2 linked regions of the Homo sapiens genome follow. The protein of the gene in region 1 interacts with the protein of each later gene in a pairwise test. Each region holds a gene or a part of one and is shown on either strand. Other genes may lie near its edges.

Region 1 (5,117 bases):
CGCTGCTGCCTGTGTAACATGACCAAACATTTTAGCATTTAATCTGTCCCTTTCCAGAACTCAACAGTACTTAAAACCAGACTTCCTCAGATGTGTCAGAGCCTCTTAGGTTGACACCTCACAATATCTAACAGATTAAAAAGAAAAAAATTCCTTATGTTTAAACTAGCCAATCATAAGTAAAACTTACGAGAATATTCATAAAATGTGATCTCAGACTGGGACACAATTTGTTTCAAAAAGAAGTAATTGAAGTTTGCTAGATGATATATTTCATGATGTGTTGGAAACACTGGCCTCAAGTCCTTTTGGTCTGCGTCCTGTAAAAGCAATTTATCTTTCATTTTAGCTTGTTCTCATGATTCTTAAAAGCTCTGTAGTTGTCTATAAATCCAGGTGGTGTTCAGCTGGGATTGAAATTAGTTAAAAACCATATCAAGATGATTGTGCACCAGAGTGATTGTGTAAAACCCTATATTCCCGCACAGCAGAGCTCTGGGAACAGCAAATAACAGACTTCTTCGTGTTGAGTTTTGCCCCAGTGGGCCTCTTTGAAAATAGGAAAGAGAAAGCTAACTTTGTCTTTATGGAGGTGAGTTGGGGGCAGGTGGGCAACAATGCTGAATTTCGAAAAGAAAAATCTAATTCTCTACTTACTCTTTACATCCCATTCAGCCTTCACTTAACTGTAATTGAGTGCCTAGGTCACTTTCTTTTAATTGGCAGTTTCATCTTTTCATTCCTCAGTGCCTCCTGATTGGGTGATGACATTTCTAACATTACAATCAAATCAGATAACTGTTTAAACAAGAACTTGGTGATGAAGGTTGGTGGACTGTTACAAAACAGGTCCTGTGCTGTGTGAGCCCTTTCTGTAGAGCAGTGCTTCTCAAACTTTATTGTCTGTATGAACCACGTGAGGGAGGATCTTCTTAAAATATTGATGCTGATTTAGTAGGTTAGGAACGGAACCTGGGATTCTGTGTTTCTTTTGAGTTCCCAGGTGATACCATTGCTGGTCCAAGGACCTTACTTTGAGTAGCAGGGCCGTAAAACAGTAGTCCTTAACTCTCACTTGGATCATAGTCACAAGGGGAGTTTTCAAAAAACATGATGCCAGTACTCTACCCACTAGAGCAGGGGTCCCCAACCCCTGGGCCACAGACCGGTATGGGTCCATGGCCTGTTAGGAACCTAGGAACTGGGCTGCACAGCAGGAGGTGAGCAGCCAGTAAGCAAGCATTACTGCCTGAGCTCCACCTCCTGTCAGATCAGCAGTGGCATTAGATTCTCAAAGGAATGTGAACCCTATCATGAACTGCGCATGTGAGGGATCTAGGTAGCACACTCCTTATGAGAATCTAATGCCCACCCTGCCCATCTCTGGAAAAATTGTCTTGCACAAAACTGGTTCCTGAGGTTGGGGACCACTGTCCTAGAGTTCCTGATTCAGTTGGTCTCCAGGAGAGAGCTCAGGCATCTTGTTTTTCAAAAGCTTTTCAGGTGATTCTAACCTGCAGCCCCAAGATTGAGAATCATTGATTTCAAAGGGTTGAGAATCTTGACTTGCCAGAGTGCCTGACTGGGTAGGCCTGGAAAAGGTTTCTCTTTATTATTTGAAACTCTGGATGTTCTTCAGTGCAGCCCAAGATCTGTTGACTTTTCTTTGTCTCCAAACTCTCATTGAGTGAATTCAGATTTGAATTTGTCTTGAAATGCAGCAGTTTCAGATGGAAGCATTTTTAACGTAGTTCTTTGGTAGTGGTCAGGAGCATGAGAATGTTCTGAGAGATAATCTGCTCTTCTGCCTTACTGATAGAACTCCCAAAAGTAGGGGGGAGCAGTGTGTGTCAGCTGTTCTTCCAGTTGAATCAGTATCAGGAGAAGGAGTTAAGGAGTTAAATGTTACTCACTTCAGTTACATGGTAGCTAGTGAAGTGGGGAGCATGAATCCAAGTTTCGTGGGCCTCAATCTACTGATTGTAGAGGGCCTCCCTTTTCCAACAAGCTTATGGTAAATCCTTACATGTAACTAGAAGGCTAGGATAGGATTATAGAAAACTGGGTGATTGTCAACAGGGATGAACCATACACACCCCTCAAGATCCACTTTTACACACTGCTTCTTGAGATCTCAAGGTTTCAGGAACATGAAAAAATAGTTTGTCACAAAGAAAAGCTTTGGGAAGGGGATTAAAGCAGAGCTTATTATAAATTTCTGCCTCATTTTACATCTCTGCAAGGCGGGAATGATCTCTTGATCCTTGACTTTTGTTGCTTTTGATTAAAGAAGAGAAATTGAAGGAGTAATAGTTTACTCTTTCAATTTGGGGAAAGAGGTCTTTTTTATCAACTTTGGGCTTTAGTTAAGTAATCATGGAACGTTCTTGTACAAATTATATTTAAAACCAAGCCAAACAAGAGCACACTTGCAAGAGAGCTAAATGTATGATCATCTTGTGCTGTATGTATTAGCCTGGGAGGTTTTCCAAAGGAATGATCATCCCTAGCATTCTCTTTGGCATTTCTATGTAGTGTCATCATCTTCTGTGATATGCCACACAAGAAGGAAGACCAGTGGTTGATTTCTGGGATTAAACTTTTAAAAAAACTCTTTAGGATCTGGCCCCAACCCAGTATCCTCTTTCCTGCTTTTCCCCTCTATACTCAGGTAGTAGATCTAAAACTTAAATAGGCTGTGATTTTTTGTCTCTCTCTCTGTCTTTGTTGTTCTGTCTGAATAACATTCTCATACTTTTTCAACAGGCAAATTCCCAGCATCCCTTAGACACAATTCAGATGTCATCCCCTTTGTGGAACATTTCCCAATCCCTCACTCTCCCTCCAGCCCCACATTGCTAGCTGTCCCTAGCAATATGTCCTTCTTTGTGTCCCCGCAGGGGATCCCTCCCCTCCAGTATTGGGTAGGGGATTATAATGTTTTTATGTGACTATCTCTGACAAACCACAAGCTCTTCAAAGGTAGGAGTAGATGTGTATTTTTTTTCTTTCTTTTTTAAATAGTGATGGGGTCTCACTATGTTGACCAGACTGGTCTCAAACTCCTGGCCTCAAGCGATTCTCCCATCTCAGCCTTCCAGAGTGCTGGGATTACAGGCATGAGCCACCATGCCTGGCCTACATGTGTATTTTTTGCATAGTAGTAGGTATCATACATTTACTATTAGTTGAGTTGCTTGAATCAGTAAATGAAAGAGCAAGGGGAAAAACAAGAATAGAATGAACCTGCGCTACTGTTTCCTTTTGTTGAAATTTTAATAAACTGAACTTCTAAGTCTCTGTTACTCCAGGGTTAGTTTTAGTAGAGGGTTCATGGAAAATGTTGATACCTAATTTGGAAAAGGAAAAGATGAAAAATTGGTGTTTGAAGTTTGTAGAGCAGAGTGGTAGCCAAGCAGCTTGTTGGGTTTGCATGGAAAAATTAGATGTCTTGGTGTACATTTTATCCTAATAGATTCTCTTCTTTCTATAATCATAAAATAGGTTCTGGGAAGACTGTTGATGTTTTTCCAAAATACCTTTTTTTGACATATATTTGAGATTTTCTGTTGGTCTTGCAAAAGAAAGTTCACTTATGCTTGTTAATTACATCAAATCTGAAATAATATATGCTCCTTCCATAATGTGATGATGCAAATTCCCAGGTGAGCATATTAGGTTTAGTGAGTCACATTTCAGACCACTTATAGAATCAATCATTTGACACCTAGTCCCAGTAGAGATTTTGCTGATTTTAGCTAATATCTGCCTTTGCACCTTCCTCTTCATTGCAGCTCTGAAACTCAAAATTGATTTTTTTCCTAGAATTGCATCCATCATTGGGCATGTGTTTAAATACCAGTAGTTTCAAAATAAAACAAAAAAGGGCTTAAGTCTCAAATTATTGAGTAGTGCTGATCAAAAAAGCCCTTTCCTAAACTATATCCACAGTGAAGTTATATGGTCCTCCCCCACTCCAGGCTTGTTAAGAAAAAATAACACAGCTGTTCCTAAAAGGCAGCTGACAAATTCACCCTCATCCTTTTTCTATACTCCTCTACCCCCACTTGAAACAAATTTTGGAGACAAGGCCATTGCTACTGTGATGAGAAAGGAGCTCTCCTCCCCAGTTTCTGTTGTCAGGTTAGTGCAAATGTCAGAAATGGCCACTATCAGTTGTAAAGAACTGTGGATCACTGTGGTCAAGTGCCCCGGCGTTGCTGTTAGTTTGGTCACTGAATGGAAGAAAGAACTGGCAGTTTAGAGGAATACCCCTGAGACAGAAATCTCATTTTAATCTGCATATTGCAGACTGGTAAACTTACTTGGAAAAAAAAAGAAGGCGCTCATAATGTCCCTCTATGTTGTGCTGACGAAAAAAAAAAAAAAACAGATATTGCTTGGGGCTGTGTTTCATGAGAGCACTGTTAGAGGCCATCCTAAGCTTTTTCTAAAGCCCATTAATTCTTTGAAGACCTGCATATGTTAAGTAAAGAAGAATTTTGCTCTGGAGCTTGTATTTTCTTCATTTCATCTGTACCTTCTCTCCCGACATACGCTTCCTGAAGAGAGGGACCAAGCCAGAGTGTTTCCTACTGCCTGTCATGCTTTGCCACACTGTTGATTGTCCCCACCATTTATGCATCTCTTGTTGTTCATTTCAGAAAGACTTCCGAGTGCAGGAACTCCCACTGGCTCGTATTAAGAAGATTATGAAACTGGATGAAGATGTGAAGGTGAATTCACATTCATTTTTATTATTTCTTATTGAAGCTAAGTGATGGGTAGGTTATTGCTCATTTCTCTAGAGCTCAAAGTTTAATTAAACAAGAACACACAAAAATTACTGTCTGTTGCTTTGTTATTTGGTTCCTGTGCAAAATTGTTAAGTGAGCCAAAATTGAGCAGTTTTGGTTACTATATGGATCATCCTGAAAATTTTTTAGATGTTGAAAAAATAGTTGATGTTGGGTTTTTTTTTTTTTTTTGAGAGTTTTACTCTGTTATCCAGGCCGCAGTGCAGTGGTGCGAGCTTAGCTCACTGCAACCTCTGCCTCCCAGGTTCAGGCAATTCCCATGCCTCAGACTCCCGAGTAGCTAGGATTACAGGCGCCCGC
Region 2 (3,500 bases), on another chromosome or scaffold:
CCAAGGTCACACTATCGCACTCCAGCCTGGGTGACAAGAGCGAAACTCTGTCTCAAAAATAAATAAATAAAATAAAATAAAGTAAAGAAGCAGCTTCCTAGAGCAGATTTGGTTGCTTAAATTGAGGCCAAGTTTCTGGAGTTTTTATTGATAGTTGACAATTACAACTAAAATTTTTTTTTCTCGCTCTGTTACCCAGGCTGGAGTGCAGTGACGCAGTGACGTGATCTTCAGCTCACTGCAACCTCCACCTCCCGGGTTCAAGGGATTCTCCCGCCTCAGCCCCCAAGTAGCTGGGACCACAGGCGTATGCCATATCACTCAGCTAATTTTGTGTGTGCATGGCGTATGCCGTAACACTCAGCTGATTGTGTGTGTGTGTGTGTGTGTGTGTTGTTTTTTTTTTTTTTTTGTGATGGACTCTCACTCTGTCGCCCAGGCTGGAGTGCAGTGGCACAATCTTGGCTCACTGCAACCTCCGCCTCCTGAGTTCAAGCGATTCTCCTGCCTTAGCCTCTGGAGTAGCTCGGATTACAGGCGCGTGCCACCACACCTGGCTGATTTTTATATTTTTAGTAGAGACGGGGTTTTACCATGTTGGCCAGGCTGGTCTCAAACTCCTCACTTCAAGTGATCTGCCCACCTCGGCCTCCCAAAGTGCTGGGATTACAGGCGTGAGCCACTACACCCGGCCTATGTGTGTGTATTTTATTTTTTTATTTTTTTGAGACGGAATTTCTCTCTTGTTGCCCAGGCTGGAGTGCAATGGCGTGATCTAGACTCACTGCAACCTCTGCCTCCCGGGTTCAGGCAATTCTCCTGCCTCAGCCTCCTAAGTAGCTGGGATTACAGGCGCCTGCTACCGCGCCCAGCTAATGTTTGTATTTTTAGTAGAGACCAGGTTTCGCCATGTTGGCCAGGGTGGTCTTGAACTCCTGACCTCAGGTGATCTACCCGCCTCAGCCTCCTTAAGTGCTGGGATTACAGGCATGAGCCACTGCGCCTGGCCAGAAGTTACCTTCTTTGTGCCTGTTTTCTCAGCTGCAAAAGAGGGGTAACAAAGTGCCAGCCCATTAGATTGTCATGGGAATTAAATGACATAATACATACAAAGAGCTTAGTAGAACAGTGCTTGGCACATAGTAAGTGTTAGATAAATGTTGGCCATTATTATTTTATTATGTACCAGATTTCTATAATTCTGCTGATGGACACAGGTTTGTTTTGGTGTGTCTATTAATTCACAGCCATTTGAGTAACAGTATGTCCTAAATGCCAAGGAAGTTACTGGTTCTAGTGATACAGTGGTTTCTGGAGTTTACATTCTAATGGAGGAGGGGGCAGTAAACATATAAACAAGTAGTGTAGCTTAGCACAGTGGTGTGTGGCTGTGATCCCAGCTACTGGGGAGGCTGAGGTTGGAGGATCACTTGAGCCAGGCAATTGAGACTAGCTTGGGCAACTTAGTGAGGCCCCATTTCAATCAAAACAGTGGGCAACACAGACCCCATCTTAATCAAAACAAAAACAAGTAGCATAATTCGAGATAGAAGAGGATGTGGACCTATTTTAAATTAGGTGGCCAGTATGGACTTCTCTAAGGAGGTGACAATTGAGCTGAGACCTAAAGAATGTGTCCCTTAAGAAGTTGAGGGAAGAAGCAATGGGAAGCACTAATGCCAAGGTCCTAAGGTGGGAGCAAGGATGGGAGCAAGGATGATGTTCTCTAGGATCAGCCTCCCGAGTAGCTGGGACTACAGGCACGTGCCACCACGCCTGGCTAATTTTTGTATTTTGAGTAGAGATGGAGTTTCACCATATTGGCCAGGCTGGTCTCGAACTCCTGACCTCAAGTGATCCGACCGCCTCGGCTAATTTTGTGTATTTTTAGTAGAGACGGGGTTTCACCGTGTTAGCCACGATGGTCTCCATCTCCTGAACTCATGGTCCTCCCACCTTGGCCTCCCAAAGTGCTGGGATTACAGGCGTGAGTCGCCGCGCCTGGCACACCCAGCTAATTTTTTTTTGTTTTGTACAGATGGAGTCTTACTTTGTTGCCCAGGCTGGTTTCGAACTCATGGGCTCAAGTGATCCTCATGCCTTGCCCTCCTAAAGTGCTGGGATTACAGGTGTGACCCACTGCGTCCAGCCTGCTGTAGTTTTGTCGGAGAGAAACGATGGTGGCTCAGACTAGAGTGGTGTTTGTGGAACTTGAGGGAAGTAGATGGACAATGCTGCTGTGAATGTGTATCTTTTTTTTTTTTTTTTTTTGAGACAGAGTCTCACTCTTGTCACCCAGGCTGGAGTGCAGTGGCGCGATCTCGGCTCACTGCAAGCTACACCTTCCGGGTTCACACCATTCTCCTGTCTCAGCCTCCCGAGTAGCTGGGACTACAGGCACCCGCCACCACTCCCGGCCAATTTTTTTTTTTTTTTTTTTGTATTTTTAGTAGAAACGGGGTTTTACCATGTTAGCCAGGATGATCTCAATCTCCTGACCTCGTGATCTGCCCGCCTTGGCCTCCCAAAGTGTTGGGATTATAGGCGTGAGGCACCGTGCCCTGCTGAATGTGTATCATTTTTGTGCCCACTTGGGTATTTCTTTTTTTTTTTTTTTTTTTGAGACGGAGTCTCGCTCTTTCGTCCAGGCTGAAGTGCAATGGTGCGGTCTCGGCTCACTGCAACCTCCGCCTCCCGGGTTCAAGCGATTCTCCTGCCTCAGCTTCCCGAGTAGCTGAGATTACAGGCGCCTGCCACCACTCCCGGCTAATTTTTTTTTTTTTTCTTTTTGAAACAGACCCTTGTTCTGTTGCCCAGGATGGAATGCAGTGGCGCCATCTCGGCTCACTGCAAACTCCACCTCCCGGGTTCACGCCATTCTCTTGCCTTAGCCTCCCGAGTAGCTGGGACTACAGGCGCCCGCCACCATGCCCAGCTAATTTTTTATATTTTTAGTAGAGATAGGGTTTCACCTTGTTAGCCAGGATGGTCTCGGTCTTCTGACCTCGTGATCTGCCTGTCTCGGCCTCCCAAAGTGCTGGGATTACAGGTGTGAGCCACCGTGCCCAGCCCACGCCCGGCTAATTTTTGTAATTTTAGTAGAGATGGGGTTTCACCATGTTGGCCAGGCTGGTCTCGAACTCCTGACTTCAGGTGATCTACCCACCTTGGCCTCCCAAAGTGATGGGATTTGTAAACCCAGCACTTTGAGGGAGGCAGAGGCAGGAAGATTGCTTGAGCCCAGGAGCTGGAGATGAGCCTGGGCAACATAGTGAGACCCTGTGTCTACAAAAAAAAAAAAAAACCCATAAATCAGCCAGGTGCAGTGGTGTGCACCTATAGTCCCAGGACTCAATAGGCCGAGGTGGCGGGATCACTTGAACCTGGGAGGTTGAGGCTGCAGCGAGCCCTGATCTTGCCACTGCCCTTCAATCTGGGTTCACAGAATGAGACCCTGTTTCAATAAAACAAAACGTAAACATGGTATTTGGTGTTGATGG

Evidence for each region.
Region 2: the proteins of NFYC (region 1) and SAE1 interact in binary tests that used the Homo sapiens proteins (3 or more experiments, as listed by UniProt).

What each region holds. Positions count from the first base shown.
Region 1 is NC_000001.11:40,742,870-40,747,986, forward strand, and holds part of NFYC (nuclear transcription factor Y subunit gamma), read left to right. Parts: intron 1-4,664; coding exon 4,665-4,736; intron 4,737-5,117. UniProt on the Homo sapiens protein: Component of the sequence-specific heterotrimeric transcription factor (NF-Y) which specifically recognizes a 5'-CCAAT-3' box motif found in the promoters of its target genes.
Region 2 is NC_000019.10:47,137,335-47,140,834, forward strand, and holds part of SAE1 (SUMO-activating enzyme subunit 1), read left to right. Parts: intron 1-3,500. UniProt on the Homo sapiens protein: The heterodimer acts as an E1 ligase for SUMO1, SUMO2, SUMO3, and probably SUMO4. It mediates ATP-dependent activation of SUMO proteins followed by formation of a thioester bond between a SUMO protein and a conserved active site cysteine residue on UBA2/SAE2.